Linked DNA regions of Homo sapiens. The protein of the gene in region 1 interacts with the protein of each later gene in a biochemical or structural test. Each region holds a gene or a part of one and is shown on either strand. Other genes may lie near its edges.

What was found.
Region 2: of the proteins of MAPK9 (region 1) and DUSP10, one has a biochemical effect on the other in vitro, tested with the Homo sapiens proteins (one study listed by IntAct).
Region 3: of the proteins of MAPK9 (region 1) and JDP2, one has a biochemical effect on the other in vitro, tested with the Homo sapiens proteins (one study listed by BioGRID).
Region 4: the proteins of MAPK9 (region 1) and MAPK8IP3 form a complex in vitro, tested with the Homo sapiens proteins (2 studies listed by BioGRID).

The regions. Positions count from the first base shown.
Region 1 is NC_000005.10:180,281,649-180,289,461, forward strand, and holds part of MAPK9 (mitogen-activated protein kinase 9), read right to left. Parts: intron 5,420-7,813; exon of another isoform or gene 5,327-5,419; intron 1-5,326. UniProt on the Homo sapiens protein: Serine/threonine-protein kinase involved in various processes such as cell proliferation, differentiation, migration, transformation and programmed cell death.
Region 2 is NC_000001.11:221,738,587-221,747,319, forward strand, and holds the start of DUSP10 (dual specificity protein phosphatase 10), read right to left. Parts: upstream 3,504-8,733; 5' UTR 3,395-3,503; intron 1,202-3,394; 5' UTR 1,159-1,201; coding exon 348-1,158; intron 1-347. UniProt on the Homo sapiens protein: Protein phosphatase involved in the inactivation of MAP kinases. Has a specificity for the MAPK11/MAPK12/MAPK13/MAPK14 subfamily. It preferably dephosphorylates p38.
Region 3 is NC_000014.9:75,458,768-75,466,580, forward strand, and holds part of JDP2 (jun dimerization protein 2), read left to right. Parts: intron 1-2,658; coding exon 2,659-2,763; intron 2,764-7,813. UniProt on the Homo sapiens protein: Component of the AP-1 transcription factor that represses transactivation mediated by the Jun family of proteins.
Region 4 is NC_000016.10:1,708,535-1,716,347, reverse strand, and holds part of MAPK8IP3 (C-Jun-amino-terminal kinase-interacting protein 3), read right to left. Parts: intron 2,820-7,813; exon of another isoform or gene 2,561-2,819; intron 2,347-2,560; exon of another isoform or gene 2,157-2,346; intron 1-2,156.

The DNA.
Region 1 (7,813 bases):
GAGATTTTTGTGGTGATGATTTATATTTCAACACAAATGCTAGGATTTTCCTTAAACATGGAAAAAATGGATTAATAACAAGTCTAAATAAAGAACTGAGTCAAATTAATAATTTCTCCAAGTGACCACTGCCCCACGGTCTTCTCCCCGTCCTCTGGGTGGTGGCTGCAGTGTGGCTGCCACTCTGACCACTCCTGCCGAGGTGTGTTAGCGTGCCAGCCAGGGAGTGACTCCAGTGACGCCACAGCGCTTAGATGCTGGACAAACAGCTGCTCATACAACCCGCACCGCAGGAGTCTCAGTCCCGTGTTACCTGGGAGCAATCTAGGGCTGAGTGAGCTGGAACACCTGCCTAGCCCACACTGCTGTGAGAAGGGGACTCAGGAGCTCTCCAGGCTGGCAGGTCACTGTGCTCTAAGCTATAGGAGGTGCGAGGCAGGTCTGTCTTGCTCATGGCATCTCATACTCCAAGGACAGGAGGACAGGAAGCTGGTCTTTGGGGCACTGTGAGCATTCAATAAACCTTTGTTGATCTGATTCCCCACAGTGCTGCTCCATTTTACTGATATCTAAAGGAAGATCCTTTCTAAAGATTAGCTTATTTACAGTTTGCAAGAGGCTGAAACAATTCCACTCAACATTTAGGGGGTACCTTTATGCACGAAAGTGGTAAGTATAGCAAAAGATATGCCATAGTCAGCTAGCAACCAGTCTTGAAACAACATGTACTTCACTATTTGGGGGAGAAGCGCGAGCAGTGAGTCCATTATCTATATTACAAGTCACAGTGCGGTAAGGGCCATAAGCACAATGTAAACAAAATCAAAAGGCAAAAGAGATCCTACCCACTGGCAGGGGCAGAAGACAAGGACGGCTTCAAGGAGGAGGCGGCATCCGCCCTCAGACTCTTTTGCCAGAGATGGACAGTAGAGCCACAGAGCTCAAACTGACTGTGTCCAGACACAGCGAACTGCTGAGCTTGGCTAGCGGGGTACAAGTGCAAAGGATTAGAGACAACTCAGCAAAAAGGCAGGCACCCACTACCACCTGCTTTACGGAGGGTGGCTGTTCCTCTGCTATGCCGTCAACACACCAGCAACACAGTTACTTGCAAGCATGTACTGAGCACCCGCTGTGGATGGTGAGGTACCATGCCAGGACACTCGCCTGCCCTCAGTGAGCGCACACTCAGGAGGAGGCCCTGCACACCAAGGGTCCTAAACCCAGTAGGGTGAAGAAGATTTGGGGGAATGGGAGGAGAAGCAGCAGAGGCGGAGGCACATTCGGAATGTGACAAGTCACTAGGGACTTGCTGGGTAGAGGGCGAGTGAAGCTGGAGAGAGAAAAGGAGGCCAGATCACTATGAGCCCCAGAAGCCACGCAGAGCCGTCTGGCCTCAGTCCTGAGGGCTGTGGAAGCCGTCAAAACATCAGAGGTGCGACACAGGCGCTGAGGTGCTCCAGGATCCATCCCTCCCTTCCTCGCTTTCATAAGAGAAGCCTTCCTTCCCCTTCCTGCTAGATAAATGGCTGCCCAACTAGAGACGACGCCTGGCAGCTTTCCCAGCAGCCAGGTATGGCCAGATGACCAAGTTCTGACTAATAAGATGTGGGTAGAAGTGATGTATGCAACTTCCAGATCACTTTTATTTTTCTTTACAGAAAGCTGCTTGCCCTCCAATCTTTCTTCCTTGCTGCTGGCTGAGGGATCAGCTGTCACAGACCCAGAGATGGAAGTCACATGCTGTAGATGGAAAGCTGCCCACCAGCTGGATTCCTTAACTACCTCATGGCACAGAGCCACCCCCCATTCAGGACCCCGTGTCCACGTTGGGACTGACAGATCAATCTCAACCCTGCTGACCAACTCTGCAACTCTCCCTGCTATAACTGCTTTCAACCTATATTTGGACTATGACAATATTAGGTTAACTTTTTTAAATTTGGGGAGTATATTCACTCATATTAGGTTTTAGAATTGTAATTCCATCTCAAGATTTAAAATAGTCCGGGCATGGTGGCTCACACCTGTAATCCCAGCACTTTGGGAGGCCAACGTGGGGGAATCACTTGAGGTCAGGAGTTTGAGAACAGCCTGGCCAACATGGTGAAGCCCCATCTCTACTAAAAATACAAAAATTAGCCGGGTGTGGTAGTGCGTGCCTGTAATCCCAGCTACTTGGGAGGCTGATGCAGGAGAATCATTTGAACCGGGAGGTGGAGATTGCAGTGAGCTGAGATCGTGCCACTCCAGCCTGGGCCACAGCGAGACTCCATCTCAAAAACAAACAAACAAAAAGATTTAAAATAATTATAAAATTAAAATAAGGTACCCTTATTATGCAGGAGAAAAAAGTCACCTAAGTGAAAACCTGTTAAAGCCACCTTCTCTGTCAAGTTTGGGCTTTGTGAGAGCAAGAGAAAGAAACTTAAGGCCACCTGAGAAGGTGTGTAATTTAGCTATTCATGAGTCAACTCTATTGAGATGATATTTCAACAAAATGGACCATCAACTGGGGCTCAGAAAACAGTTTTACAAATCGGGAAGTACAAGAATTCTTCATGAAACCACATTAGCAATACACTAAAGCCTGCATTCGCTGCCTCCACTTCCCACACCAGCCGGTGCTGGTTCCTCCCCCTCAGCTCCCAGGCTGTGCTGCCACCATCCGTCCAGCACAGGGCTCCCTCCTTGCCACTTGTGCACTCAGCAGCGCCCGCCAGGCTGCACTGTCACAGCCTTTGTAGGGTCTGCCTCCCTTCCAGGCTATGAGCAACTCAAAACTGGGAGGGAACGCTACAAGGAGGTTTCCTGGAGGAGGCAAGACCTGAGCTCAAGTTTGTTCACAGTATCGACCGAGGCATGAGGAAACAGGCACTTTCATACACGTCAGTGAGAGCTGAGAAGTGGTAAAACATTTTTTTAGATGGAATATAGATCTGGCTAATAAAAATGTTAACTGCATATCCTAAACTGGCAAACACAATTCTCTAAGTGTATCTGACAAATACGTGTACAAGTATCCAAACATATTTGTGCAAGCATGTTTGTAACACTTCTTGTAACAGGCAAAAAACTAGAAGTAATCTAAAATGCACACTGTGGATGGACTGAATAAATTATGGCACAGAAGTACAACAAGGCCATTCAACAGAATGCAAGGACTTTATGTATCAATGTGGAAAGATGTCTAAGATACAGAAAGGAAATACACCAAGTTGAAGAAGAGAACACATAATGCCCAGCTACGTAAACACACACACACGCATACACACGCACATACACAATGCTGGCAAGTAGAGAAATAGTGGGAAATGAGAAACTTTCTTCCCATTATAACTTTCTATTCTGTTTTTCAAATGTACATATTTCACATTTAAAAACTGATTAAACAACACATGTTAAATGAAAAGCTGCAGAATGATCATTTGACACTTGTATGGAAGACGGGCTTCAGGCAGATAAGGCTAGAGGCATGAGAGTGGGCCTGGCTCTGAGGTACACATTTATCAACACCCTTATAACAACTAGTGAGAAGCATATTACTATCCCCGCTCTGCAAATGAGGAAACTGAGGCTTAGAGGAAGTTGTCCAGTAAGGAAGTTGTCCAAATTCCCAGCATGGCTCAGATTTGAATTTAGGAGTGTTTCACCACAATATTCAAGTTCCTCCCAAAGCACCATTCTGATATCCCTTTAGAAAGTGAAGCTATTTGCACATGGGCTGGCCAGGACCAGCACACAGTCCTGCACATTTCACCTTGCTGACTCCCCCTACCAAAACCTACCAAAACACTTTTTCCTCTAACGATGACAACGATTCAGTGATCCACAGACTCAAGTGAACCTTTCATCACACTAAAGCTTCAGAGTACCCAGGACATGCGATATTTAAATCAACTAACTATTGTGATTAAAAGCAGATTCTCACAATCACCCTCTGTCTCAATGCTTGCTGCCGACATTTTTTTCATTAAATTGTTCTGTTTTCCAGCTGGGCAAGATGGCTCACACTTGTAATCCCAGCACTGTGGGAGGCCGAAGGTGGGAGGATCACTTAAGCCCAAGAGTTCCAGACCAGCCTGGGCAACATGGTGAGGCTTCAACTCTATATTAAACAATAATAATAATAATAATAGTAAAAATCTGGCCGGGTGCGGTGGCTCACACCTGTAATCCCAGCACTTTGGGAGGCTGTGGCGTGTGGATCACGAGGTCAGGAGACGGAGACCATCCTGGCTAACATGGTGAAACTCCGTCTCTACTAAAAAAATACAAAAAATTAGCCGGGTGTGGTGGCGGGCGCCTGTAGTCCCAGCTACTAGGGAGGCTGAGGCAGGAGAATGGCGTGAACCTGGGAGGCGGAGCTTGCAGTGAGCCAAGATCACACCATTGCACTCCAGCCTGGGCGACAGAGCGAGACTCCGTCTCAAAAAAAAAAAAATAGTAAAAATTTAAAAAGTTCTATTTTCCTACTGTAATTCTTTATTCTTTCTTTTCTTTTTTTTTTTTTTTGAGACGGAGTCTCGCTCTGTCGCCCAGGCTGGAGTGCAGTGGCATGATCTCGGCTCACTGCAAGCTCCGCCTCCCAGGTTCACGCCATTCTCCTGCCTCAGCCTCCCAAGTAGCTGGGACTACAGGCGCCCGCCAGCACACCCAGCTAATTTTTGTATTTTTAGTAGAGATGGGGTTTCACTGTGTTAGCCAGGATGGTCTCGATCTCCTGACCTTATGATCCGCCCGCCTCAGCCTCCCAAAGTGCTGGGATTACAGGCGTGAGCCACCGCGCCTGGCCTCCTACTGTAATTCTTATGAAGAATAGCTTGGTATAACAACGTAATCTTTCTTTGATAATCAAGAACCTTGCAGCTCTCAGGGCCATCCTCTGTAGTTCTTAAGCCACAGTATATACCACAATACAGAACAACTAGCATTTGGTTATCACTTCACCCACTGTTGGATCCATAGGACCCTGCAAGGATCTCCGTCACCAGCCCCACTTCCAGGCACCCAGGCCTGCCTATTTCCCTCTCAATCCCCCACTCCCAGGGCCCTGGGTAAGGGCTTCTCGTGGCTCCTTGGACCAGCGACAGCAGAAGCATTCTCCCAGCCACCATTTCTGTGACTTCCGAACCACTGCACACATGCCACTTTAGAAAGAGAAATCACTCCACGTGAGAATATGTACACAAATGTTCACAGCAGCTTTATTTTTAATAGTGCCAAACTAGAAACAACCCAAACCTGTCCTTCAATGGGTAAATGGTTAAACTAACTGCTGTATACCCATACCATGGAATACCACTCAGCAACTGCTGAAACATACCACAACTTGGGTGGATCTCAGGGGCAGGATAGTCAACGAAAAAAGCCAATCTCAAAAAGTCACATCCTGTATAACTCCATGCATATAACATTCCTGAAAAGACAAAAGTATAGAGATGCAGACTAGATTAGTACTTGCCAGCAGTTATGAATGGTGGGGAAAAGGGGCTGCTGTGGCTGTAAGGGGGTGGGACAAGGAGATATCTGGGATGATGACATAGTTTTGAATCTTGATTGTGGTAGTGGTTATAGGAATTTTCACACGATAAAAAATGACAATGAACTCTATACACCTTGCTCCGATGCCCAATGTCCTGGTTTAGACATTTTACTACAGTTGTGTAAATATGTAACCGTGGGAGAAAGCTGGGGGAAGGGTACTGGGACCTCTCTGTGCCATTTGTGCAACTTCCTGTGAATCTATAATTATTTCAAAATATGGAAAGAAAAAAGAGAGATTTGTTGAAAGTGTGCAGTGATCACACCATTCTCCCATTTGAACTCCTTCAACAGTGACTGACTGCCTGGAGAATAAGATTCAGTTCCCTAGCACAGCACAGGAGATGGCAGTCCTCTGGCCCAATCTTAGGCAACATCAAACCACCTGGGATCAGCGGACACACCCAGCTACTGCACACCTTCAGGCCTCTGCCTAAGCTGTTCCATCTGCTTGAAATGACTTCCCTCCCCTTTTTGACCTGCTGGTCAACATTCACCCTCCTTCAAAAATCTAGTTCAAGCACTTGCTTCTCTTACATGTTTCCTCCTCCAGCCTTTCCCTTCAAACCATGCTGGGCATGCCCCCATTTTTGCCACCCTCCCAGTATTCGCTTTAGATTGCATTCCGAGTCTACTTACACTTCTACTCTGTAAGGGCAGAAAATGTGTCTGATTTATTTCTCAATCCTCTACTGATTACACAGTGGGTGCCCAAAAAATGTTTGTTAAAGACAAAGCTAAATGGGAGAAAAAATGCGGTAGGGCAGCTGGGAGCAGTGGTTAAGATCGGGACTTTGACTTCAGACTCCCAGTGGGTCTGCTATTTATCTGGGTGATGTGCAGCAAGCGATTGCACTCATCTGCAACACGGACGAGCAGAGAGCCTCAGGGTACCTCTAGATAAGAAGTGCACAGCCCACTTAGGAAGGCATCTTGATGCAGGAATGCACCCTAAATCTGACGAAGCCTCGTCTAGATCCAATTACTAACTTACAGAGATTACAGAGAAACACATTCAATTACACTGCAGAGATGCAATCAATCAAATACCAACTATGGAAATGCTAAGGAACAACTCGATTGCTTCAACAAATAAACTACCAAGAAAACAAAGAAATAGGAGGGGGATCTATGGATTAAGAGAAACTTAAAAGACGTATCATCCAATCAACAACGTATGGCCTTCTCTTGCTCTACTTTCAAACTATTAAGGAAACCTAAAATTCATGGGGCAGCTGGAAATTTGAATATTGACTAGTTATTTGATGATATTAAGCAATTATTACTTTTTCAACTTTAAAAGAGTCAGTACCTTTAGAGACCTACCGAAGTGTGAAGTATAACTACTGTACACCTCCTGAGCACCCTGAGGTTGTGCCCGTATGTTTTACAGATGAGTGCAATCGCTTCTGCACATCACCCAGATAAGCAGCAGACCCACTGGGAGTCTGACTCAAAGTCCTGATCTTACCCACTGCTCCGAGCTACCCTACCACATTTATTCTCCCATTTAGCTTTGTCTTTACCAAACATTTACTGGGCACCCACTGTGTAATTAGTATCCCAAAAAATAATGAATGAAATGACATGATATTTAGGATTTGCTTGAAAATAATTATGGGTGGTAAGGGTGCAAGTGGATACCATTAGAGATGAAACAAGATTGGTCAGGAGTTAATAACTGTTAAAGCAGGACACTATTCTGTTTATTTTGTATATGTTTGAAAGTTCCCATAATAAAAGTTAAAATAAAAAGAATGATGTTGAAACTGGTTCATACAATCAAGTACAAAGTATCAGGAATTAATTATTCTGAAGGAAAATTATGTAAAAATGGCACCTTCCTAACCAAGTGTGAGGTGTAACTACTGTATGTATGTAGACCAAAAATAGTTGCCCTATTGGCAAATCAATAGTCTCAAGAAGAAAAAAAATCTGGTCTCTGTTTTATCTTATGCCTCATGAAAACAACTGGTTTACTCGCTATTAACTGGTTTGTCTGGTCCTTTTCTTTATCCAGAAAATTAAGAATATTTTATCTTAGACACATTCAAGTATCCCCTCTGTTGTTTATTTACGGGACCAAATAAACAGATTTTAATCTGTGAACAAATTAAAGTCCTGGCACCCTGAAAATTAAATTGCCAGGAAAATCAAAGCTGTCAAAAGAGAAGTCTATGCAAAAATAGTATTGTTTTTAACTCTGCAGGATCCTTTTGAAGAAAAAAAAAAGTTAAATGGAGGAAAACATTAAATAGATTGGTGGTCA
Region 2 (8,733 bases), on another chromosome or scaffold:
GATTGGAATAGAGCTAGCAGACCAGGCATGACTTGAGATACCATCTGGTGTGTATAAAGCCCCTTTTTAGAAAGATGAGAAAACAGTCCCAGAGAGGTGAAATGACTTGCACAATGCAAATTAGAACCCAAATGAAGGGTAGAACCCAGATCTTCTGGCTTCCAGTTCAGTGCTGCTGGGTTTTTCTTACTAAACCAAAACAATAAAGAGCATAGAAGGGAAGAGAAGAATAAAGTCTATTTTGGTCTTTGGTAGCCAGGGTAAGGAGAATGCTGTCACTCTACGAGAAAACCCAAAGTGAACCCGGCTAATCAGGACCGTGCTTGGGAAGGGAGCAGGGGCATTACCTTTCAACACCAGAGGTTCTTTGCCTTCTCTCTTCAGGGACTCGAGGACTATGTGAAGTGGCTGGGAGGGCATCACTCGGCTTGGTTCATTGGTATTCTCATCATAAACTATAATTTCTTTGGAAAAGATCCTCTTGAAAGAGTCCTTGCCTTCCCTACAGGAAATCAAGTCTAGGACAGTGATCTTGCCCTGCTGCAGTCTCCGCCGGCTGATCTTATCGGCACAGTTAATGTGGACAGCTCCTTGGATGTGACTCTTGTTGTACTCCATGAAGGGCCTGCAGTCAATGATGACAGGGCCCTGACTCGGCAGGTGACTCTTGCTGCATTTGGTCATCTTCTTTGCCAAGTCATTGGGGTAGATTATTTTGATGCTGGCTAGCTGCTTGGGGGTCCCTGACACAGGGCTGCCCACCCCACTTGATGGACTTAGAGAGCCTGTATTCTCATTATTGTTGACCATCTGGTTAGCAGGGCAGGTGGTAGAGGTTCCGATGGCAGTGGTGGTGGTGCCAGCGGCAATGGCTTGGGTTTGGGCCTGATTGTCCTTGTCGTAGGTTGCCACAGTGCAGCAGCTGGCACTGCTGCATCCACAATTCAGCGAGCGGGCAGAGCCGCTGGATGAGGGCATATACGTCAGATTCGCAGCCTTGAGGGACACAACGGTGGTGGCGATGACAGGAGGGTGGCTGTTACTGCCTGGGTTGGCAGAGCCAAGGTAACTAGAGTCTAAACAAAGGTTGAGATCCTGAGGTCGGACGGGCCTAGATAGTGCCACTACTACCCTGTCGTCTAAAGGAGACGGAGGCATGAGGAGGCTGAAAACTGGCAATTCAAGAAGAACTCAAGACAGTCTGTAAAGAAGGGGAAGGGGGAAAGAAAGAATAAAGTCACGTGACACAAAAGGCAGTCTCATCCAATCCCTGGGAAAGACCTTTGCATCCCTCTGAGCAAAGTCGTCCTAATTGCCCTTTATCATACCATTATCAAAACTTGAAATTCATTTTTATGTATTCAAAGAGGATGCAAACCTGAGGGCTCCAATCAATTTGGTTGCTAAGTCTAAGGTTAAATTTGGATGTAATGTTGTAAATGTTAATGAACAACCTTTCCTGGACCTACATAAAAGTTCAGCTGTAGAGAAGGTATAAGCACAAATAATTAGAAAAGCTGAAGACAGAAGGGAGGCTCTTAAGAGGCATCTATTCTGAACCTCAGCTCTCGGGCAGAAGTACACTGCAAACATCTGAGAAAGACCCATTTGTCCACCCTTGCATGCTTGCCATTTAATTCCCTCACTCGCTGCAAAGGCAAAGGGGTAACCAAGAGCACTGGCATGGTTCACAGAAAGGTACAGCAGCTAAATATACATCAGGGTGGATGTCAACTTTCTGCAAATCCCCTTAAGTGAATCTCTTTAACTTGGAGCTATTCTTGCCTTCCATTCTCTATTGGGGTCCTTTGAAAAGCACAACATAGTCATACTAAAACCTCACATGTTGTCTTTTGGCCTCTTATAAATTAATCTGCATTTCCCCTTTTCACTACTAACTGGTGTCCTAAAACGAAATCTCAAGCCATGGAGCCAGATCTGGAAACCTGGAAACCCCAGCCCCGGCAAATCCCTCACCCTTTGCTCTCTCACCTGCCCCCGCCCTCATTCCTGCCTGGAAAGGACAACTTGGGCTCTCCTCCCCTCTTCATCTCCCTGGCTGGCACAGACTGTGCATCCTAGAGCTTCTCTCAATGGGAGGCAGCCACGTTGTATAAGGTTTCAATCCCATACAGATATCCCCCCTTCAAGAGTACTGATTCCGTAAAGAGGACCTCCCAATTAGCCTGTACTCGTTGAAAGGGACAGTGAATTGTTGCCCACCGGATCTATCTCTGATTTCAGAGTGTCTGCAAAAAGACAGCTCCTTCCTCCTGTAGGCACAGGGGCACTCTACAACTCAGGCTTGCTAACTCTTCTTCTTCTATTAGACATGCACATAGCAAAGACGCCAAACCCCACGCCAAGAGACGCTCACCTAAACGAACTTTAAGAGCTATCAGGAAAAATGCCATCTATCATCCGTCTACACACGACCGTCACCATTCTCATCCGTCTACACACGACCGTCACCATTCTCTGACACAGAACCAAAGTGTCACAGGCGGAATCCACACTCACGCGCGCACACGGGGCACGCACCCATCACGTCGGCAGATCTCCAACGACTCGGGTTTCTCTCACCCACCTTTGGATGGGAGCGAAGGAGTCAACCCCCCTTCCCTTGCGTAGTATTTTTTCTGAAGAGCGAGTTCTATTCCAGAAGCTATAACTGTTTCCCGGTTGGACCAAGCGGTGAAAGTCTTTGCTATTGTGTTACCTGGTAGGACACGTCCAGGATCAACATACCATTTCTTCTGAGAGGGACGCATAAGCGTGTTCACAGAGACACGCGCTGGGACCCCCACCTCCACACAGAGTTCAAGGCTCACACACACACACACGGAGTGTATAGAGAGACCTGCATCCCTGCAGCAGAGGGTCGGGCGTACATACTGCCCGTGAAACCATCCAGTCTGGCCCAGAAAATCTCCCAGAGAAATACTGAGCTATCCCCTCTCCCTTCCACCACTAGGCAAGAGCTGGAGAGAAAATTAAGTGGTTAGAGAATGCTTCTTCCCCATTCCTGGAGCACTTAACATCCCCCCGCCCCCCGCTTCACTCCTCGGCACACAGCGCACTAATGAGCCCCGAGCATTTAAAACTGCCGCAAAGCATCCCAACAAACCTCATTTTTTCTTCGCCCCAAATCCAAGTAGACTGCAGGGAGTAAACGCACAGGGTAGCAGGAGCCAACGGCCGGAACCTTATAACCCTACCTGCTGTAGCTCCTCCGTCAGCATCGCATCTCTATCTTTCTGTCTCTGTCTCTCTCTCACACACACACAGATACACACACACAAACACACACACTCACACTCACACAAGCACCGCCTTACAATCCTCCACCTCCAGTCCCGGGCTCTCAGGAGTAGTCGCGGTGACTTCCACTTACTTCATAAATAAGTGTATTCCTCCACCATCTGGCGCTCCTCTTCAGCTATGGACTCGCACATTCAGCCCCCATTCACTCGGCTTCATTGATCTCCAGCAGCAACATAGTTACTTTCTCTTTTGCTACACTGTAAATGTAAGGTTCTGAGGGGGCGGACTCGCCGCCGACCGACGGCGGGTTGGGCCAATAAGAATCCGGAGAAAGCCGACCGCTACCTCACAGAGCCCCGCGACCAATGGGCAGCCTAGGGGGCGGGTAAGAAGGCGTGGCCTCATCTCTTTAAGGAGGGTTTATCCGAAGCTGCTCTGGGTCCTCGGTGTTAAAACACGGGCGGTGATGTCATTGGCAACCAATCAAAAACTTAAAAGAGCCAGCCGGGGCCGCGCGGAGCAGCTGCTCTCTATTTACATGTAAACCGAACCGGCAGGATGCAGTTAACCCTTTACCAGGCTGAAGTGTCAGCGGGCTGGACGCGCTGCTCCGCTAAAACTGGCTCTTCCCACTGGACGGGATCCTCCAACACTCCCTCACCCGGGGACAAACCACGCTATTTTTCCTCCTTACTATGGACAGATGATCAAAAGTATCGGAGTAACTTTCTAAAGGAAAGAGACTGCGATCACCGTCCCTAGTGGGAAAGCCGGGTTCTCTCCGAGTCGCTCGAGGTGACTTGACAAACGCTAAGCCAAAATTCGCGGACCTCGCCGGGTCTTCTGCGCTAGGACCAGCATGAGCGCGCAGCCAGGGGCGACGCTTCCGCTCCGAGCCGCGGCCCGGGGCCACGCGCTAAGGGCCCGAACTTGGCAGCTGACCGTCCCGGACAGGGAGGCCCTTCAGCCTCGACGCGGCCTGCGTCCTCCGGAGGGCCCTGCTCCGCCCGGGAAGCGTCCGCCTCCCGCCCGCCCGCCCGCAGATGTCGCTGCCCCTCTGGCTGTCCCGGCCTGACCGCCGCGCGCCGCCCTGCTGCTCACCTACTTCCGCGCCACGGTCACGCCCCTGCCGTCCCCAGGCTAACCCTCCCGGGGCTCGACCCAGAGCACTAAGGCGGCGCCACTGAGGGCTGCTCGGAGGAGGAGGCTTGAGTCGACGCCAGAGGCGGCAAGGGACGCGCCCTGAGCAGCGGTGCAGAGGCCAATCCCCTGGCCGGGCGTCCTGGGGCCCGCTACGCGCCCGCTGCCCCTCCGGGTCTGGGTCCCCGCCCGCCGCCGCCCCCCTTTCCCGCCTGGCGCGCTGGGTCCCCGCGCCGTGCCAGCAGCGCGCAACCCACCCGCCCCACATGCCTCGGCCGCCACCCCTCGGTCCCGCACGGCCCCTGCCGAGGCCAGGACCGGCAGCCCGGCGCTTCTGGAACAGCCGCAGCTGGCGGAAAAGAGCCAGAGCCGAGTGCAAATAGCTAGATTGAATGGGGCCGGAGGAGCGTGGAGGAGGTGACGCCGCCTCTCCCCGCTCCCCTGACTTTGGCCGGCGCCAGGTAGCTGGCCGCAGCTCCTGATCAGGGAGAAGAGTAGGGGGCGGGGCAAGCCGCCCCTTGCCTAGTCCGGAAAATATTCTCATTAGGGAAACTGCAGGAAAGTTGCCCTGGGATACAAAAAGAAGTGGAGATGAACAACCCCAGATGAACTGTGGAGAGTCTACGTCCAAGAACCCTAAAGAAGTAGAGCTTTTTCTTTTCTTATCTGTGAGAGAAGGGATAAAAAGTGAAATAATGGAATAATACATTATGAGCACTAGGGAATGTTGGGCTATCGTTTTTCTCCCTTACCTGATTGGATGGGGTTTGGAGGTCTACTTCAGACTCCAAGCCTAGTAGTATACTGAGTAGCAGGGGCATATTCATGTAATTGTTTTCAGGGCAGATCTGAAATCAGGAGGTGTCAGACCATAGCTAGCAAGTCAGCTATGCTCAATGAGCTGTGAAGAGAAATCCCCTTGGGCACCTCCACTTACATGCAGGCACATACCCCCCAGTCCAGCTTTTCACACCAGTGTTACGACGGGCATCACGTACACATCCGATAGTCTTACATAGGAGAGGATTTTGTGTAACGTCTGTTGTCGAAAATAGTCAAACTCTGTAAAATATTTGAAGAGATTTATTCTGAGCCAAATATGAGTGACCATGGCCTGTGACACAGCCCTCAGGAGGTCCTGAGCACGTGCCCAAGGTGGTTGGGGTCCAGCTTGGTTTTATACATTTTAGGGAGGCATGAGACATCAATCAAATACATTTAAGAAATACATTGGTTTGGTCCAAAAAGGCTGGACAACTCTAAGGAGCGGGTGGGCTTTCAGGCTATAGGTAAATTTAAACATTTTCTGGTTGACAATTGGTTGAGTTTGTCTAAAGACCTGAGATCAAAGAAAGGAACGTATGGGTTAAGATAAGAGCTTGTGGGGACCAAAGTTTTATTATGCAGATGAAGTCTCCAGGCAGCAGGTTCAGAGACAATAGGTTGTAAAATGTTTCTTATCAGACTTGAACTCCATGTTGATATATAACAGGGCTCATCCCACCCTCACTTCCCCTCATGGCCTGAACCAGTCTTTCAGGATAAATTTTACAGGAGCCTGGGTTGAGAAATTAGTCCGTTGGTTGATATATAATGAATGGGGCACGTCCCACCCTCACATCCCTTCATGGCCTGAACCAGTCTTTCAGGATAAATTTTACAAGAGCCCTGGTTGACAAATTAGTCCGTTCAGAGGGTTGCCTGGGAAGGCGGGGTGGGCAGGGGGTGGGGCGTGGGGGGTGCTTAGAATTTTATTTTTGGTTTACACCTCTCTCCATCCACACACCAACACACACGTCAATTCACCCTCCTGATAATAGCAGAGTGCTTAGGGCACACCATTTGGTTCTTAAATGTTTGAAGATCAACAGGTTATGGTCAGGAAACTTGGGTTCTGGGTAATTTCTATACAAATCAGAAAAGAACTTCCCAGAGGTTCTACCCTTGATCTATCTGGAGCTGGAAGGCTGAAAGCTTACCTTTCCCTAAACATAGACAATTATGGGAAAATTTTTCATTAACTCAGAGTTTGAGAGTTCTAAGTTCTGATTCTGACTCTATCTGTTATATCTGTTCATCCAGTCTCTGTCTTCATTTATCCATAGAATGGTAATACCCCAACTCAGAAGAAAAAGGGAACTCATTCAAGCGCTCAGGGGGGAAAAAAGATCCCCTGCTGATAAAAGGCATTCAGTGGAAAAAAAAATTAATTTACTTGCTTTAGGAAATAAGGTGCCTATCTTTAAAGGTATATATGATCTATAAATGATGAATTCATTTCTAATGCCTCAACATCTAAGCCCAAAGTATAGATTTATACAATTGCAGAAGAGTTCTTAACAGCTTTTCCCACAAGGCCCAAAATGGAAAAGTAATTTCAAGAAGAAATGTAACTCTTGTAATGAGATGATTGTTTTATTATAGTTTCAAAGTAGTAGATTATTATAATTTAGTTGACTAAGAATCTAAGCCATCCAGGCTGAAACATTGGGAAAGATGGCAAAATTCCTTATCATATATCAAGCCTGAAATGTGGAATAATTACCAGATTATGAATATAAGCAAAGTTGTAGTTATTTTTTAAGTTAGGCATCTCTAAGTTTATATTCAAGTCATAAGACTGGTGAAAAAAATCAGATTATAGATGGAATTTTTTTCCATTCACTACTCTTCAGAACATCTTTTGGACAAGAAGAAGTGATTTTATTCCTGTTTTTGAGCGATAAATGTGAAAATACTACACTGAAATATAATGCCCTGAGACTTAAATTCGTAATGCTAGTCAGCCAATGGCTACAAATCTGATCTGTATATCAATAACCAGCAGCAGAGCGTTAATGTTAGTTTCAGTCCCAAAGAAAGAGTGAAGCATCTTCATTCAGTCTGGATGTTGTAACATGATTGTATTGAGCATATCTTTGTTCCCACAAACATCATAAGAAAAATATTGACTGTTTCAGCTGAAGTACTATGTATTAAAGTCAAAAGATGACAATAACTTAGGCCAACATATAAGATATAATATGGATAGTATTTAGCAAATGTATTAATTAAATTACTTCTTTTTTGTGCACTTAAATGGTTAAGTGTGTGGGGTAATGGCAGAAGGTGGGGCCTTCAAAATAATCCTCAAGGTCAAGATAGATTTCTGGAGGTACTAGAATTAAGGCAGAGAATGGCTTGGAGAAAACTTAAAAATCATCCAGGATAAAGATGATATTATACCAGAAGGAGTGGGGAATAAGCTGAGGAATAGGAAAGTGGCATGGTAAGTGTTTGAGGTCATTGAGACCAGCCTGGCAAAACATCCAGCAACACTCTCCAGGCCTAGGGAAGGGCTGATAAGAAGTGTTCCCTGAAGGAAGGAGCTGCTATGGTTTGAATGTTCCCCCAAAATACATGTTGAAACTTAATCACCAGTGTGACACTATTAAGAGATGAGGCCTTTTGGAGGTGGTTAAGTCATGAGGGCAGAGGCCTCATGGAAGGGATTAGGGCCATTACAAAAGGGCTTCAGGGAGTGAGTTAGTTTTCTTCCATTCCCCTGTGGGGACACAGCAACAAGGTGCTATCTTGAAATCAGAGATTGGACCCTCACCAGGCAGTGAACCTGCAGATGGCACCTTGATCTTGGACTTCCCAGCCTCCAGAACTCATGTGAGCAATAAATTTCTGTTCCTTACAACTTCCCCAGTCTCAGGTATTTTGTTATAGCGGCACAACTGGACTAAGACAGTGGCTACTGTAATGATGGAAACAGAGGCAGGGCCATGTGCTTGTCCCACTATCTATGAGTTTGGACACAAGAGGCCTGCAGTTCTTTCCTACAAAATTCATGGGCAGGTGTGCTTGTGACTCAGGAAAAGGCTCTGAGCCATTTAAGGCTCTATATCTGTATTTTCCAGTGTGGTGGTCATTTGACACATGTGTCGGCCACTCGAAGTGTGGCTAGTCTGAATTAAGATGTGCCATAAGATTAAAATACACATTGGATCTTGAAAACTTTATATACAAAGGGTAAAAGACATCAGTGCAAGTGGGAGGCAATAGAAATGGGAGCAGGGGTGAACTGGTGGAGCCTCTGTGACCACAATCTTGTCCTCCACACCTTCACACTTGACAGATGCAGATATAGCTATGGATAGATATATGTCTTATTCATGGGCTTCCAAAGTAAAATTTCAGTTAAAGAAAGGATCCTGGTTGGGATTTTTTTGTTGTGGTGGTTCTGGTTTTTTTGTTTGTTTGTTTTTTGTTTTTTTGTTTTTGAGATGGAGTCTTACTCTGCCGCCCAGGCTGGAGTGCAGTGGCATGATCTTGGCTCACTGC
Region 3 (7,813 bases), on another chromosome or scaffold:
TGGAGGAGGTGATGTTTACTCTCGAGGTTCAGTTAAGAGTTTACCAAGTGGGAAAGGAAGGATATCTCACTCAAGGCTGAGAGGGCCTGGCTGGCTTGGAGAAGGGTGAGACATTTGGACTAGAGGGTGATGCAGGAGGGGATGAACGTGGCTGGAGAGGGGAGGAGGAGCGGCCCCTGACCTGGGCCTCAGCCTGGCCCAGTTGATCTCTTAAACTTTCTTCCAGCTCTGAATCTTTTTGCATTGCTGCTAAAGCAGCTTCTGTCTGCTTCTGACTTTCTGTGGAATAAGGCCCTGTGCAGGATGGGGGTAGGGATTGAAGCCTTGGAGGGCAGAGGTTGGTTGCTCAGGGGAGGACACAAGGCCTTGCAGTACCCAGGCTGCACACATCACCTTGGCAGTTTGTGGGCAAACCCTCCTGGCCGAAGGGAGATTGCACCGCCAGCCACTTCCTCCAGTTCCTTCCCTCTGCCTGTCGTCACGGTTACCTTGGCCTTGTTGGGGGTGAGGTTAAGGTTGGGCGGAATCAATTTCAGCCAGGTTTCTATTTTCCCAGATGCAGGTCAGCCAGAGGAGCTGTCACTTCTGGTTCAGTTTCAAAGAAGGCCAAGGGACTGGGAGGTGCTTGGGTGTGGCGGTGTTGACGAGGCGCCTCTGCAGCTGACTCCCAGGTGGGGTGGGAGTGGGGCAGGGAGAAGCTCAGAGGTGGTGAGGAGGCAGAAAGGGGGCTGCCCTGCCAAGGCCTGTGCCGATGGCCATGGTGCTGGTCTCGGGCCCAGGCGCTCTGTCCTGAGCCCCCAGAGCATGCTGGGAGTGTGCAGAGAGAGGCTGTTTATTTTCCTGGCCTATAGCCCTTTGGGCTGAGACCTTGTTCCAGGCCTTGGGCTGCCAGAGTCACCCCCCACACCCTCCTCCCTGGCTGGAGAAGTGAGAGAGTTGGCAAGCCCAGGACAATCCAACGGCTTCTCTAATGGCCTATGACTCTGGTCTGTCCCCAGCCCAGCTGGTCCTGGGTGTCCTTCAGATTTTCCTGGTAGATCACCTACCAGGTAGGTAGGCAAGAGGCAGCAAGAGGTGCCACATCAAAGTGCTCCTGATGGACTGGGGCTGTAAGGGCTGGTGGTCAGGAGCAGGGTGCTTGAAACCAGAGAAATCTGAGTTTGAATCCTAATCTGCTATTTTGTAGTTGTATGGCCTTGGGCAAATTGAACTATTGAGCCTCAGTCTCACCATCTGTAAAATGGTACAGTAATAGTAACTTCCTCATAAGACTTTGATGGTGAGGATTAAATGACATGTGTTTAAAGCATTTATCAAAGTAGGCAACAAATGGCACCTCTTGTTATTATTACTAATGGAGCAATAACAACAGCAACTTTGATTCGAAGTCTGTGCTAGTGGGCAGTGAGTCTCCTTCTCCCCCATTCCAGGGGTCGTATTTCACGCATGGTGAGTTTATTAACATGTCCTGAGGGAGAAGCAAGCCCGGAGGCTCAGGAGGCCCCTTGCTTGTTCCCCAGGGTCCTTCAGCTCTCCCACAGGTGGGCATCCTGGGGGAAAGGATTAAAGCCAGATGAGGAGGCTGGGGAGACTGTTAGTGACAAGAGGAAATGGATCCCAGCATTTGGAAAGGGCCAAGAAAGGAACATTGGGTATGGAGGAGCGGGGAAGATCTTAAATCCCAACAGAAGGTAAGAGGAGAGGACAAAGATAGTCAAGGAGGTGGGAAGGTGGCAGTGGAATGTGGAACCTGTGTCCATGCCCAAGACGTTTTTAAAGGAAGTGCCTGGGAACCACTGGCCTGGAAAATTGTACCCAGAGGGCTTGGGCTGGGCAAAAGAAAAGGTCGTCACCGCCCGTTGGGTGCCACCTCTGTGTGAGTAGATTTGCCAGGCTCCTGGCCTCCTGAACTCCTCATCTGGCTTTAATCCTTTTCTCTGCTTTTGCATATTCTTCCCCCAGAATGTCCACCTGTGGGAGAGCTGAGGGACCCTGGGGGCAGAAGCGAGGGGCTTCCTGAGTCTCTGGGCTTGCTTCTCCCTCAGGACATCTGAACCTGGATATCTGTCTTAGTCCATTTTGTGTTACTATCACAGAATACCACCAACTGAGTAATTTATAAAGAAAAGAAATTTATTTCTCACAGTTCTGGAGGTTGTGAAGTCCAATATCAAGGTACTGGTGTCTTGTGAGGGCCTTCTTGCTGCATCATCCTAGGGCAGAAGGTGGGAAAGCAAGAGAGTACAAGACAGCAAGAAAGGGCCAAATTTCCTTTTATAACAAATCCCCTTTTCTAATAACAACATTAATCCATTCATTAATATTGTTACTAACCACCTCTTAAAGGTGTCACCTCTCAACACTGTTGCATTGGGGATTAAGTTTCTAACACTTGAAGTTTGGGAGACACATTCAAACCAGAGCAGAATCCCTGCCCGTTTGGGCTACTGACTCCTCCCTGGGATGCTCTGAGAGGATCCTTGGACTGGCTGGGAGGTATTTCCAACTCTCCAGGCAGTGGGCTGGCAGAAGTGATCACTTGTTCACTGCCGAGATGTGGGTTAGAAAGGCGAAGTTGTCCCTCTGTCTATGTGTCAGGACAGAAACTGTACTCCAAGCCTGCCTCAGTGTCTAATCAGTGGCTCTGTGCCCTCACAGCTAGATGAGGAAGAGGAGCGAAGGAAAAGGCGCCGGGAGAAGAACAAAGTCGCAGCAGCCCGATGCCGGAACAAGAAGAAGGAGCGCACGGAGTTTCTGCAGCGGGTGAGCTGACCGGGTGGGTGGGGAGGCCTGCCATTCCTTGGAGTGAGCTTGTGTACTCTGGACCAGGAGAGGCCATCAGATGTCTCTGTAGTCAATGAGCATCTGCTGGCAGCTGCCAAAGCAGCCTTGGCCCCTCTGCTCTTTCCTACCTCCTGTTTCCTCCCCAATCTCTGAACCAAGACAACCAAGGGCAGCCTTCAGCAGTTCCTGCCCACACAACCCCTGGAAGCCCAAGAAGGAAGGAGGAGCCAAATTCCCCTCCACTGAGGTTAGACCCTTGGTGCTGATTGACCCAGATGGCCCAGGACTGCCACTATCTATTTTGGTTCCCTGGTGGCTACCAAAGTCGTCTAGGGTGGGTGCCAATGAAGCTAGGTAGTAACATCCTGCATGTGGGCACTGGACACAGCCTCTGGCCTGGCTAACTTTGCACAGAGAAAAGCTCCTTCCCTTAGCTGCAGGTGTCTTATCCAGCCCTGCATGCCATCTGGCCAGCCCCTCAGCTCCACTGAAGGTGACCTCCAAGCTCTTTGCTGCTACCTCTGGGAATAAGAGGTCAGCTCTGCATGTAGAGGTCAGCCAGGGGTTGCTTTTCCTCCTGGCCCTACCTGCCCTTTCATTTGGAATGTGCCAAGCAGGATGTTTGTTCTTTTTCTCCCAAGTCCTGCCTCTCAGAGCTTCCCTGCATCTCAGAAATGGTGGCTGGCAGTGAGGGAACATGACCAGAAAGCTAATCAGTGCAGGCCAGGAGTCTCTGGTCTTTCCACCCCTAATCATTGGTTCTTTGCTGAATAATAATAACGATAATGTATAATAATAACATAGGGGCGGGTCCTATTCTGTAAGTACACAGTAACTAACAATAGTTGCCACTATTTGTAAAGTTGGGTGCTGTGCTGAATGCTGTATGTACATTATCTCATTTTATTGGGATAATAACCATATGAAGTGGGTACCTTCATTAGTCTCTTTCTACAGATAAGGAAACTAAGGAAGTGTGGGGCTGAGTAATTTGCCCACATCTCTGCTATATTGGCATTCATTCATTTGTTTGCTCTTTTGTTCATTAATTGATTCAACGGGTATTTTTAAGCATGTACTAAATGTGCATCCGTGTGTTGGGTACACTGGGGGCACACAGGAAGCAGCAGACACGGTCCTCCTGTGGGAGCTGGAGAGACAAGGCTAGATTGGCCTGGTGTTTTTGGACTCTGGAGGGTCTATGGGCATCTTCTCACACTTGCAACAAGCAGAGAGCTATTCTGTGGTCATGGGTGTAGACAGCATGGGGCCGTGTATCTACCTCCAGGCTGTGAGTGTCCAGTGCAGGGAATGGTTATTGTAGATTAGAGTTAGATTCCTGGATCTGGGAGCCCGTTGGAAGAGATGGTGCTACAACATTGGGCTGGGAATCTTCAGGAAGTTTCTAAGACACGAGCCTTCAAGATGGATGAAGTGCCACATACCTCATTTCCAGCACCAAGTGCCTGCCATGAGCAGAGCTGGATGAGAAAGCAGGGACTAGAGAAGCTTCACGTGAGATCCCTGCCTTCAAGAGCTTGTCAGCCAGTTACCAGGCAAGATACGCCCTAGCGGACAGCATGTTAGTGACACACCAGTGCAATAAAGAGTTGGTGCCCAATGAATGGCACTCACTGCCCATCACATTCCAGGAACACTAGCTGAGCACCTACTGTGTGCCAGGCATTTCCCATGTTTTATTTAATCCTTATAATATTCCAGTGAGATAATATTATTTATCCCCATTTTAGAGACTGACCTGTAGCTCAGAGAGGTCAAGTTACTTGGCCAAGGTCACACTGCTAGCGAGTGGTGGGCTTGGATGTATTCATCCTTTGCTGATCCACCCGTCCATTTAGTAGGTGTTTAGTGAGTGCCTAGGGCACAGAGGGCAGGCAGGCGGTGTCGGCAGTGGGATGGGAGGCAGGAAACAAGGAAAGTGACGTGTGCCGAGCGTTATGTTGGGCAAGCCTAGCCAGCTGTGAGAACACACAGCAGGGGCCCTGTCCTGGTCTAGGCTAAGGAAAGGCTGCTTCAATTCAGACATAAAAGAGGAGTAGGAGCAGTGAGATGGAGGCCCTAGGGGGTTATGAGGAATGGAAGGGTTCAAGCAAAGGCAAAAGGTGCTGTTTAAGGATGTGTTTAAGGCATTGAAAAGGATACCAGCTGGAGTTTAGAGTACCAAGTAGTGGGGTGGAGAGGCAGGCAGGGCCCAGATCCCTCATAATAGGGTGATGCTAGATGCTGGGTTGCCTGAGGCATGCCCATTCTGTGCCTGTTGTCCTGGCCTAATGATTAGTAGCCCCTTCCTTCACTCTCACAAGTGCTGCTCTAGGATGATGAATTATATGGTCATGGAGAGTCACTGAAGGGCTGCAGGAGGGGAGACGCACACCTTCAAAAGATCCCTCTGGCGGCAATGTGGGGCACAGATTGAGGTAGAAGGATCAGTTTTGGAAGTGTCATGTTGTTCCAGTGAGACAGAAGTGCGCGGCCTTGGGGTCTGGGAGGAGATTTGGGCAGCATTGTCTGGGCCCAAGCCCAGTCCTCCCCTCACCCCTGTGTTCTCCTCCTCCTCCCCAGCCTTGGAAGCAGAGGTTTGGTGTGAAGTTTAGGGCATGAATGCAGGCGGCTGTGTTGACAGTCAGTGCCTGCAGACCTGGGGGATTCTCTTGTAGTTTATTTTTAATAGGTAAAATACAAGGCTCAGAGATACATATGTTAATTGTTAATAAATAGTAATTATTTAAGTAAGGGGATATATACAGTTGGGACAAATATCTACAGGCGGCCTTTCATAGCCAAGGGTTCTGCAGCTGTGATTTGACCAACAGTAGATCAAAAGTATTCAGAAAAAAAAGCATCTGTACTGTTTATTCCCTAAACAATGCAGCATAGCAGCTATTTACATAGCATTTACATCGTATTAGTCATTATAAGTAACCTAGAGATGATTTAAAGTATACGGGAGATGTGTATAGGTGATATCCAAATAACACGCCATTTTATGTAAGAAACTTGAGCATCCTCGGATTTTGGTATCCTCGGGGAGTCCTGGGACCAGTCGCCCATGGCTACTGAGAGACAACTGTATATATGTCATAGGTAAAAAGCCACCGTCCCACCCTTGACCCCTGGACAACCAGATCCACACCTGGAAGATTCTTAACTGCATCTCAGAGTTCGCCTGCCTAGACTAGCCGAGGCCCTGAACCCCGGGGAAGGGGCAGGCCTTGGGAGGGGTCAGGTCCACACCCCACAGGCCCTGGGGCTGCCTCAGTACATCCTCCATCTGCGGTCAGGAGCAGTGGCCCTGAGGCTTCTGCCTTGTATAATGCTGGCAGCTTCTGTCTCTCTGCTGTCCTAACCCAGGTTCTCTAGATGTTAGTAGCAATAATGCTATCTCACACTCCCGTGGTGCCCTCTGGTCTTCATAGCCACTCTCTCCTGATGGTCACAGTGGCCCTGGGAAGAGGAAAGGCAGTCCTATCCATTGATGAAGTTCAAGGTCACCCAGTGGCCGAGTCAGGACGAGAACCTGGGGCTTCCTCTGTGCCCCACACAATATTCAGGTTGCCCAGACTCAAAAGAAATTAGGAAACTCGTTTGTGGAAGCATAGCTAGCAAGTAGCAGAGTCAGGATTTTAATCCAGACAGGTCTTTCAGGCTCAAAGGGGCATATCAGGCTGCTTCTCAGCTCTTACAAAAACTTAGTGGAAATCTATTTTATATGCCTTAGAATAGCTTTTTAAAAAATATAGATTCAGATGGTCTTTTGTTGTTGCTGTTGCTGTTTTTGAGACAGAGTCTCACTTTGTCACCCAGGCTGGAGTGCAGTAGCATAGTCATAGCTCACTGCAGCCTTGTACTCCCAGGCTCAAGTGATCCTCCCACCTCAGCCTCCTGAGTAGCTGGGACTACAAGCACACGACCATGCCTGGCTAATTTTCTGTTTTTTTGTAGAGACCGGGGCTCCCTGTGTTGCCTAGGCTGGTCTTGAACTCCTGGACACAAGTGATCCTCCTACCTCGGCCTCCCAAAGTTCTGGGATTACAGGTGTGAGCCACCATGCCCAGCCAATTCAAACAATCTTAATGCTTAAAGTCCCCTGGGCCAATCATCATATTTTCTGGGAGGAAACTGAGGCCCAGAGAGAGGAAGTGACGTGGCCAAGTTCACACAGCCAGGATTAAAAGCCAGGACACCCAGCCCTTCACCTTGTATTCTTTCTACTGCCTTTGCCGACCACAGTGTAGGAGGCAGAACCTTAATATGCACTAATTCTATTCTAAAACAACAAATGGTTTCATTTTCTCTGGGGCAATAAATATCTAACAGAAGTCAAAACAATAAACAAAAATGCAGCCGGAGGTATATGCTTCATAATTAATGTGAGAAAGATCTTCGCTCAGTTCCTTCATTAATTAGGAAAACAAATTAGATAATTGTTGTTATAAAGTCACAAACCACTTCTACAATCATGGTTTAAAAAAAAAAGATTCTTCTGAACTCAACTTATATTTACACAATAAATAAATATGTAGAGCCAACTAATAACTCTTTGAGTGTGGAAGGCAGTAAAACTAAAAGGCAGTTAGTTACATTCTGGCTGGGCGCGGTGGCTCATGCCTGTAATCCCAGCACTTTGGGAGGCCGAGGCAGGCAGATCACTTGAGGCCAAGAGTTTGAGACCAGCCTGGCTAACATAGTGAAACCCTGTCTCTACTAAATATACAAAAATTAGCCAGGCGTGGTGGCACATGCCTGTAATCCTAGCTACTTGGGTGGCTGAGGCACGAGAATTGCTTGAACCTTGGAGGCAGAGGTTGCAGTGAGCCAAGATCATGCCACTGCACTCCAGCCTGGGTGACAGAGTGAGACTCTGTTTCAAAAGAAAAAAAGCAGTTAGTTACATTCTGACAGCCAGACAGTCAGAATTCAGGATATTCAATGATGTACCCTAACATTTAAAACCCACAGAATATAATGTTCTTTGTATGATAGCTGCATGAGTAAAGCAAGTTACCCT
Region 4 (7,813 bases), on another chromosome or scaffold:
ACAGAGGGAGACTCTGTCTCAAAAAAAAAAAAAAAAAGAAATGACCTGAGAGCATAGGGTCTTCGAAAATCTAGTAATCCAAGCCAGTTTTTTCAGTATTCCATAGAATGATATCATCCTTCCTTTTATATGTAAACAAAGTTAACGCAGTGACTGACTTTTAATGTCCAATATAAAATCAAGATGACAGTATTCTGGACTCAGAATGTCAGAGCAATGGCCAGGAAAGTTCTTTCACAGGGCGATCAACAGGCTTTTGGTAACTTTCACAACCCATGGACACTTTCCTGCTGAGTAAAGTAATACATTAAATCCAAACCTCGGCCGGTGCAGTGGCTCCCGCCTGAAATCCCAGCACTTTGGGAGGCTGAGGTGGGCAGATCACGTGAGGTCAGGAGTTCAAGACCAGCCTAGCGAACATGGTGAAACCCCATCTCTACTAAAAATACAAAAAATCAGCTGGGTGTGGTGGTGGGCGCCTGTGATCCCAGGTACTCAGGAGGCTGAGGCAGAATCGCTTGAACCCGGGAGGCAGAGCTTGCAGTGAGTAGAGATCACGCCATTGCACTCCAGCCTAGGCGACAGAGTGAGACTCCATCTCAAAAAAAAAAAAAATCCAAACCTCTCCTCTCATACGTTTGTTAGGCCAGGCTCACCAGCGAGAAACAATTCAGCTCTGGCTGGTTGGTTAGAAACGAATCTTGACACGAATCAAAGATCTCGTTCTTGTGCAATACCGATCAATTTATTTCCTTCCCTGGGAATGAGGGTGTAGTATGAATTTCCAAAGGAAAAACGCTCATTTTTGGTCTTTTATCTTAAGCAGGCAGACAGGTGCCGGGCACGTGCCTGGCAGATGCCCTTCATGGCTAGTTCCCAGGTACGGGCAGGGACCTCGCATGGCTGTGGTTACCCTGGGCTGGCAGGGGGCAGTCAGAGCTCTTTCCATTTCCCACAATTGCCTGGCCACCTAGGTCTAAAATGCAGAGAGAGGACGTGCAGGGGGTGGCTCTGGAGTTACAAAGCTGCCCCTGAAGCCTGCTGGACGGGACACGGGTCGAGGGAAGGACATTTCTCCATTCAGGTATTACGTGTGGGGCTGAGAGAGCTGGCCACTAGCTCGGGACTCCAAAAACCAGGTTGAAAAGCAAGGCTTCCTCACGTTCTGTGAAAGGGATGGCTGGGTTCAGTGTCCACGTAAAACAAATCCCAACTGGTTGAATACGAACTGATTTCAAGAATGGGTAAGACAGATGGGAAATAGATATATATATATTTCCCATCTGTCTTACTAGTACATATACATTTGTATTGGGAAATATATATATAAATTTATATGGTTGGTACCAGCGGAAGAAAAATGAAGATAAAACCAAAACCTCAAGTTAAGTGTCCCATCCTATGAAACATCTCCCTGGGAAAAATTATTCTCAAGTAAACTTTTATTCTCTGGTGCATTCTTAGGAGTTTACATTGGCTTCTGAAACTTCCTAATCAGCCCCAACCTCCGACTCCCTCTGGTTCCACTGAACGAGAGGCCTGCTAACCGTGCCTCAGTTCACTCTTCTCAGTAGCCAAAGGGTCCCTGCTCTCAAAACATGAATGCTCTAACCCGAGGCAGGGACATAGAGACACACGTGTGCAAGGGCCCACTGGGACTGTGCGTATATCTGGGAATTCATTTCCTGGGGAGAAGGAAAGGTGATGGGCAGGCTGGCTGAGGAAAGGTTAGGGAACAGGAGCCCCAAACTCCCCAGAGGCCTGGGGAGGAAGGGGCCCCCCGAAACTTTAACAAAAGGCAAGTTTTGAATCTGGTTGTTGATAACAAGAATTGAAATGTCCTAGACCCTGTGTGAGAAACGCACCACACGGAGGAGAGGTCTTGAGGAAAGGCCCTGTCGCGTTTCACGTGGCACGCCCTGGATCTCTTGCCGTAACAGTGGCTCAAAAGAAAATGCACCAGAGTAATGATGCTGTGGGCTCTAAGGGTCTCCGCAAAGACGCACCCCCCTCATAAGCGGATTCTAGTCTCTGGGTTTCACTGCCAGCCTGCCCCAGAGCAGTGCTTGGCCCAACACCCTGCCAACGGGGTGAGCGGGCTTACAAACCGCTCATGCGTGAAGGTTACGTAAAAACAAGCCGCCCAGCTCCCCTGCAGGCAGGCGGATGGACAAACGGCACTGCTGGGACCCTGCTTGGCCATGGGGGAAGGACACACACAGCCTGGGTGAGTCCCCGAATCACTGTACCGAGTGGAAGATGTCAGAGGAAACCACGTACGCACTGCAGGAGGCCATTATGCAAAGCTCTAGAAGATGCAAATTAACCTACAGTGACTGAAGGCAGGTCAGTGGTTACCTGGGGACAGGTGGGGCAAGGAGGGGTCGGAGGGGGATTACATAGGACACAGGGAACTCTGGGGTCCGGGCGTCTACGCTGCTTGGACTGCAGGGATGGCTTCTGGTGTTTATACGTATTTCAAAACTCATCAAATTGTACTCTTTAAGTATGTACAGTTCAGTGTATGTCAATGATACTGCAATAAAATTGTTACCCACAGAAAGAAAACAAAAAGCAGCCCAAGGCGAAAAAGTCGATCCTGTGCCCTGAGCACAGGCAGTCCTGAGGTGCGAGCGGTTTCCCACCAGGCTCTTCTTGGCCTTTCGAGAACTTCAGCCCCTCTCTGCTGTTTCCTGTTGCTGGCATCCACTTTCCCATCTCACAATATTTTCTCCTGTCTGGTCTCCTGTATCTGAAACCCACTGCTACGGGATCTCCCCTCTTTCTGGAAAATGTTCATTAAACAGGAAACAAACCCACCCTTTAAGCATCTTCCTTTCTTGCATGAAGCTGAGTAACTCACCATCTGCCCTTGCTTCCAGGCAGCTCAGCTAGACTGCCCACAGCCACACTGTCCAGTATGGAAGCCCTGGCCACATGTTTACATTAATTAAAATAAAACACAGCCGGGCATGGTGGCACGAGCCTGTAGTCCCAGCTATTCGGGAGGCTGAGATGGGAGGATTGCTTCGGTCCAGAAGTTTGAGACCAGCCTGGGCAACGTGGCGAGACCTCATCTCCGAAACAAGTAAATACAACTAAAAATCCAGTTCCTCAGTTCCATGAGTCATGCCTAAAATGCTCAACGGCCCTATGTGGCCAGCAGCTACTGAAGTGGACAGCACCAAATACAACATTTCCATCATCCCAGAACGTTCTGTCAGAAAGGCTGCTCCAAAGAGACAGTCCTTGACCTTCCGGAACTGCACAGTTTGGTGAGATGTGTGCAGAGACAGAGGAAAGCCGGCTTCCCTTTATCCACACACACAGATGGCCAGCATCTCCGGGTGTGCCGAGAAAAGGAAACAACAGGCTCAGGCTGAATGAACCAAAGGGTGCCGGCCCCTTGTTGGCAGGGAGCAGCTTAACTTGCGGAAGCCGGGAGAGAGGCCTGGTGGGGGCCCAGCTCCCCAGGCAGGGGCGGCAGAGTGGGTGATGGGGGCTTCTCTGCAGGTGCACTGCGGAGGCAGACACCAGCGAATCCGGCAGAGACGGGAACTAGCCAGATAAACCCCGAGGGAGGGGTGGGGGCAGGTGGTCTAGGAGGCAGGAACTGCAGGTCTGCAGAATGGGGGGCAGCCAGAAGACCAGAGGCAGATGAGGCTGGTGAGAGGTGGGCCCAGTGGGGGGCCACCTGGGGAAGACAGCCTCACTCTGTCCACCCAGTGTCCTGGCCCACCTTGTCACTCAGATCCCCTCATGTTATCACCACCTGAGATGTCCAGTCTGCCCCAGGAGAGCAATCAGCTAATCCCCCTGCCTGGAATTCACCCTAGCACTCAGAGACCAGATATGCTTTGTGAGGGTTCTCTGGGCTGGCAAAGTGGCGGCGGTGGGAGTGGCCGGGAGACCCTGGGATGGTGGTGACTGGAAGCAGAAGGCAGCAAAGGAGATGAAAAGTGGGGACATTAAAGAACTCCTGAGGCTGGCCGGGCGCGATGGCTCATGCCTGTAATCCCAGCACTTTGGGAGGCCGAGATGGGTGGATCACGAGGTCAGCAGATCGAGACCATCCTGGCTAACACGGTGAAACCCCATCTCTACTAAAAATACAAAAAATTAGCCGGGCGTGTTGGCGGGCACCTGTAGTCTCAGCTACTCGGGAGGCTGAGGCAGAAGAATGGCATAAACCTGGGAGGTGGAGCTTGCAGTGAGCCGAGATTGCGCCACTGTACTCCAGCATGGGTGACAGAGCGAGACTCCATCTCAAAAAAGAAAAAAAAAAAAAAAAAAAAAGAACTCCTGAGGCCAAAAGAACACCAGGACCTAGTGGCGGCTAGATACTTGGGGTGACAAGGGGAGCTCGGGACCTCAGTTTTCTTTTTTTTTCTTTTTTTTTTTTTTTGAGACGGAGTCTCCCTCAATTGCCCAGGCTGGAGTGCAGTAGCGTTGCAATCTCGGCTCACTGCAAGCTCTACCTCCTGTGTTCAAGCGATTCTCCTGCTTCAGCCTTCCAAGTAGCTGGGAGTACAGGTGTGCATCACCATGCCCAGCTAATTTTTGTATTTTTAGTAGAGACGGGGTTTCACCATATTGGCCAGGCTGGTCTCGAACTCCTTACCTCATGATCCACCCGCCTCGGCCTTTCAAAGTGTTGGGATTACGGGCGTGAGCCACTGCGCCCAGCGTTGGGACCCCAACTTTCAACAGGGCAAAGGAAAACAAGTCCGGAGAGCCGGCACCCCATGCAGCTCCTGGGCAAGCTTCTGTAGTGATTTTCATGCACTAACAGCTCATCCTCCAGCCCTGGTAATAAATGGGAACCTGGGAAAGGGGCCCATCCAAAAATCTTGTGCCCCTCACCTGATGCCCATCTGGCACAGATTAAGGATCTAGGAGGCTCTGCATGCCATGGGTCTTCCTGCTGAGGCCTGAGGACATGCTCCATATCTGGTCCCCAGGGCCCATGAGCCAGACTGAGGCACAGCTGCAAAGTGACTGAACTGTGTTGTCGCAATGGTCAAGGTCAATAAGAGCAGAGAACGAGGGGCCACCGCAGAACACAGGACACAACAAGGACACAGGGACCCCTGAGCCCCTTACACAGCCAGAGAAAGCAGCGTGGGAAGACGCCTGCACTTGGGAAGCTGGGTGAGGAGTGTTAATTCTGCAACCTTTCTGTACATATTTCAAAATGGTTTTTAAAAACGTAAAAATGAAACAGATATTTCATTTAGAAATCTTAATTTTGGAAGAACTGACTTCTCTCAGCTCTCGGCCCTGTCTGACTGCTGCCAGCGTGGCCCGGGGGCTCCCGCAGCGGAGCGGCAGAGGGGCAGGCTGCGCCCAGCGGCCTCCGGGCCACTTCGGCCTCTGTCCCGTGTTCTCTCTGGCTGGCAGGTACCTCCTTCTCCATGGTTCCTACATGTATTTGCTCCACTTTTTAGGGAGACTGCTGTACTCCTGGTGAGTGGTACAGCTACACCAGGCCAGCTTTCAGAGGCACCTAGGAAAGGCAGCTCTGGCAGCCCCATCTTGATAGCTTCATTTAAAAAACATTTTTTAAAAAACTGTTCTTAATATCATAACATGGCAGGAAAAGAAATCGCATACTCTGGCCAAGCAGTGGTGGATTTACTATTTGTCATATGAAAAACAAAAATAAAAATTTCTGATTCAGCATCTTAATTCATTGATGGAAAAGACTTCCTGCAGATCGTCTGGCGCAGAGGAGAAAAAAAGAAGGAAAAATGGCAGACTGATCATCTCTGTAGAGCGGGATTATGGTGTTTGTTTTCTCCAGCTGAATCCTACCCAAATAGTCTATGAAATGGATGACATTTATTTATTTATTTTTATCTATTTATTTATTTTGAGACAGAGTCTCACTCTTGTTGCCCAGGCTGGAGTGCAGTGGTATGATCTTGGTTCACCACAACATCTGCCTCCTGGGTTCAAGTGATTCTCCTGCCTCAGCCTCCCGAGTGCTGGGACTACAGGGGCCTGCCGCCACACCTGGCTAATTTTTTTTTCTTTTTTTTTTCTTTAGTAGAGACAGGGTTTCGCCAGGTTCGCCAGGCTGGTCTCAAACTCCTGACCTGAGATGAGGAGGTCAGGAGTTCAATGTCAAATGTTGGGAGGCTGAGGTGGGAGGATTGCTTGAGTCCAGGAGTTTGAGACCAGCCTGGGCAACATAGCGTGACCTCATCTCTCGCCTGCCTCAGCCTCCCAAAGTGCTGGGATTACACATGTGAGAGTCGCTGCGCCTGGCCGGTAACTTTTATTTAACTCGGAAAAAATAAGTTTTGGATAAAACTGTCTTCCCTTGCATCCTTTCCTTACATAGCATCAAATGCCGAATGATCAGCAAACATCACCATCTGGGCTTGTTGAGAGAACACCCACTCCAGCTGCCTGCCATGAGCCTGGGGGGTGTTACCAGCAGCAGTTTCTTTAGGGTTAAGAAGATTTTAAGGCAAATAATGACCACTAATATTCACATGTCATCTCTCACACCTTATTTTTCCTCTTGTAAGCTAAGCAGTTGATCACTATGGGAGAAGGGCTCTTTGCTGCCCGGGTAAGCCCGGCAAACGTGGTGGCTCTGCCCGGCCCTCCTCTGGAGCTGCACCGGACGGTGCGTGTGGAGGCAGCATCTGCTCCTTGCCAGCCCCCACCCCGTTCAGCTGCTGTTTCCCACCTTCTTCTTTTCCACTGGGAAATAACTTGAGGGTTTTAAAAAACTTTGTATCAGAGCCTGCACAACCAGAAACTGCACTGTCTGGTAGGCGGCTAGCAATGTCCGGTGCCTGCCGTCCACGGCGGCCCTGAGAACCCGTCAAGGGTTCTGCCCTGACTCTGCTACATCTGCCTGCCCACAATTCTCCAGGCAACCAACAGCCAGTGATGGTGCTTGGATCTTGAGATGAAACTGACTTGCAAAGTCCGCGGCCACTGCAGCCCAGCGAGGGGAAGAGGATGGACCCAGGGTGTGTGGCTCCTGAGGGCCGGGCTGACACTCAGGCTGGGGTCTGCAGACTCCACGGCTTGGGTCAGTCTCTCGGGAGACCCCACCCTCTCTAGCTCCTGTCACTCTCATACACTCAGCTGCCTGTTATCAGAGCACATTGGGAGTCACTGTGGTAATGACCGGCAAGAAGATGGGAACAGGGATGTCTGCTCTGCTCAGGTTTTTATAAAACCCTGCGGATTCTGTCTGCTCAGAAGCTGCAGTGGCTCAGGTTACCCATCTCTGACTAAGCCTTCTTGAGCAGAGTGGCTGGGGACGGAGCTTCTGCTGACAGCTCACCCAGGAGCTCCTCTGCAACAAGACACGCCTGCAGCGTGTGACGTCCCGCTCCCCTCTTATCAGACACACGTCTATGTGATCACAAGTCCCTGCCTAGAAAAGACGCCGACCCACAGGGCACAATGGTCTACAAAGTTGGAAATGAAGGTCTGCTTGATTCAGTAGAGGAGTAGGCATGCCAAATGTTGACAGCATCGAGCCCTCTTCCTTAGTTGTAAAGCCCTGAGGTCTTTCCAAGGGCGCCCCGTTAGCGTTTAATCATAGCCTCCATGCTGGCCAAGCATTGGCTGGCTTCGGGGCTCGGCTCCCGAAGCTCTCGGTGCAGCTTCTCTAAAGCGCTGGGGCAATGGTGGGTCTCAGACTAAAGGTGATAGCTTTGCAAACCACACGCACACCCGCCAGCTTGGTTCAGCAGGAGCCCTGGGGGAGGGCAGATGCACTCACAGCAGCTTGCATGTGAACCGCACAGAGCTGGGCAGCGCCTATCCTGTGCACAGCTCATTT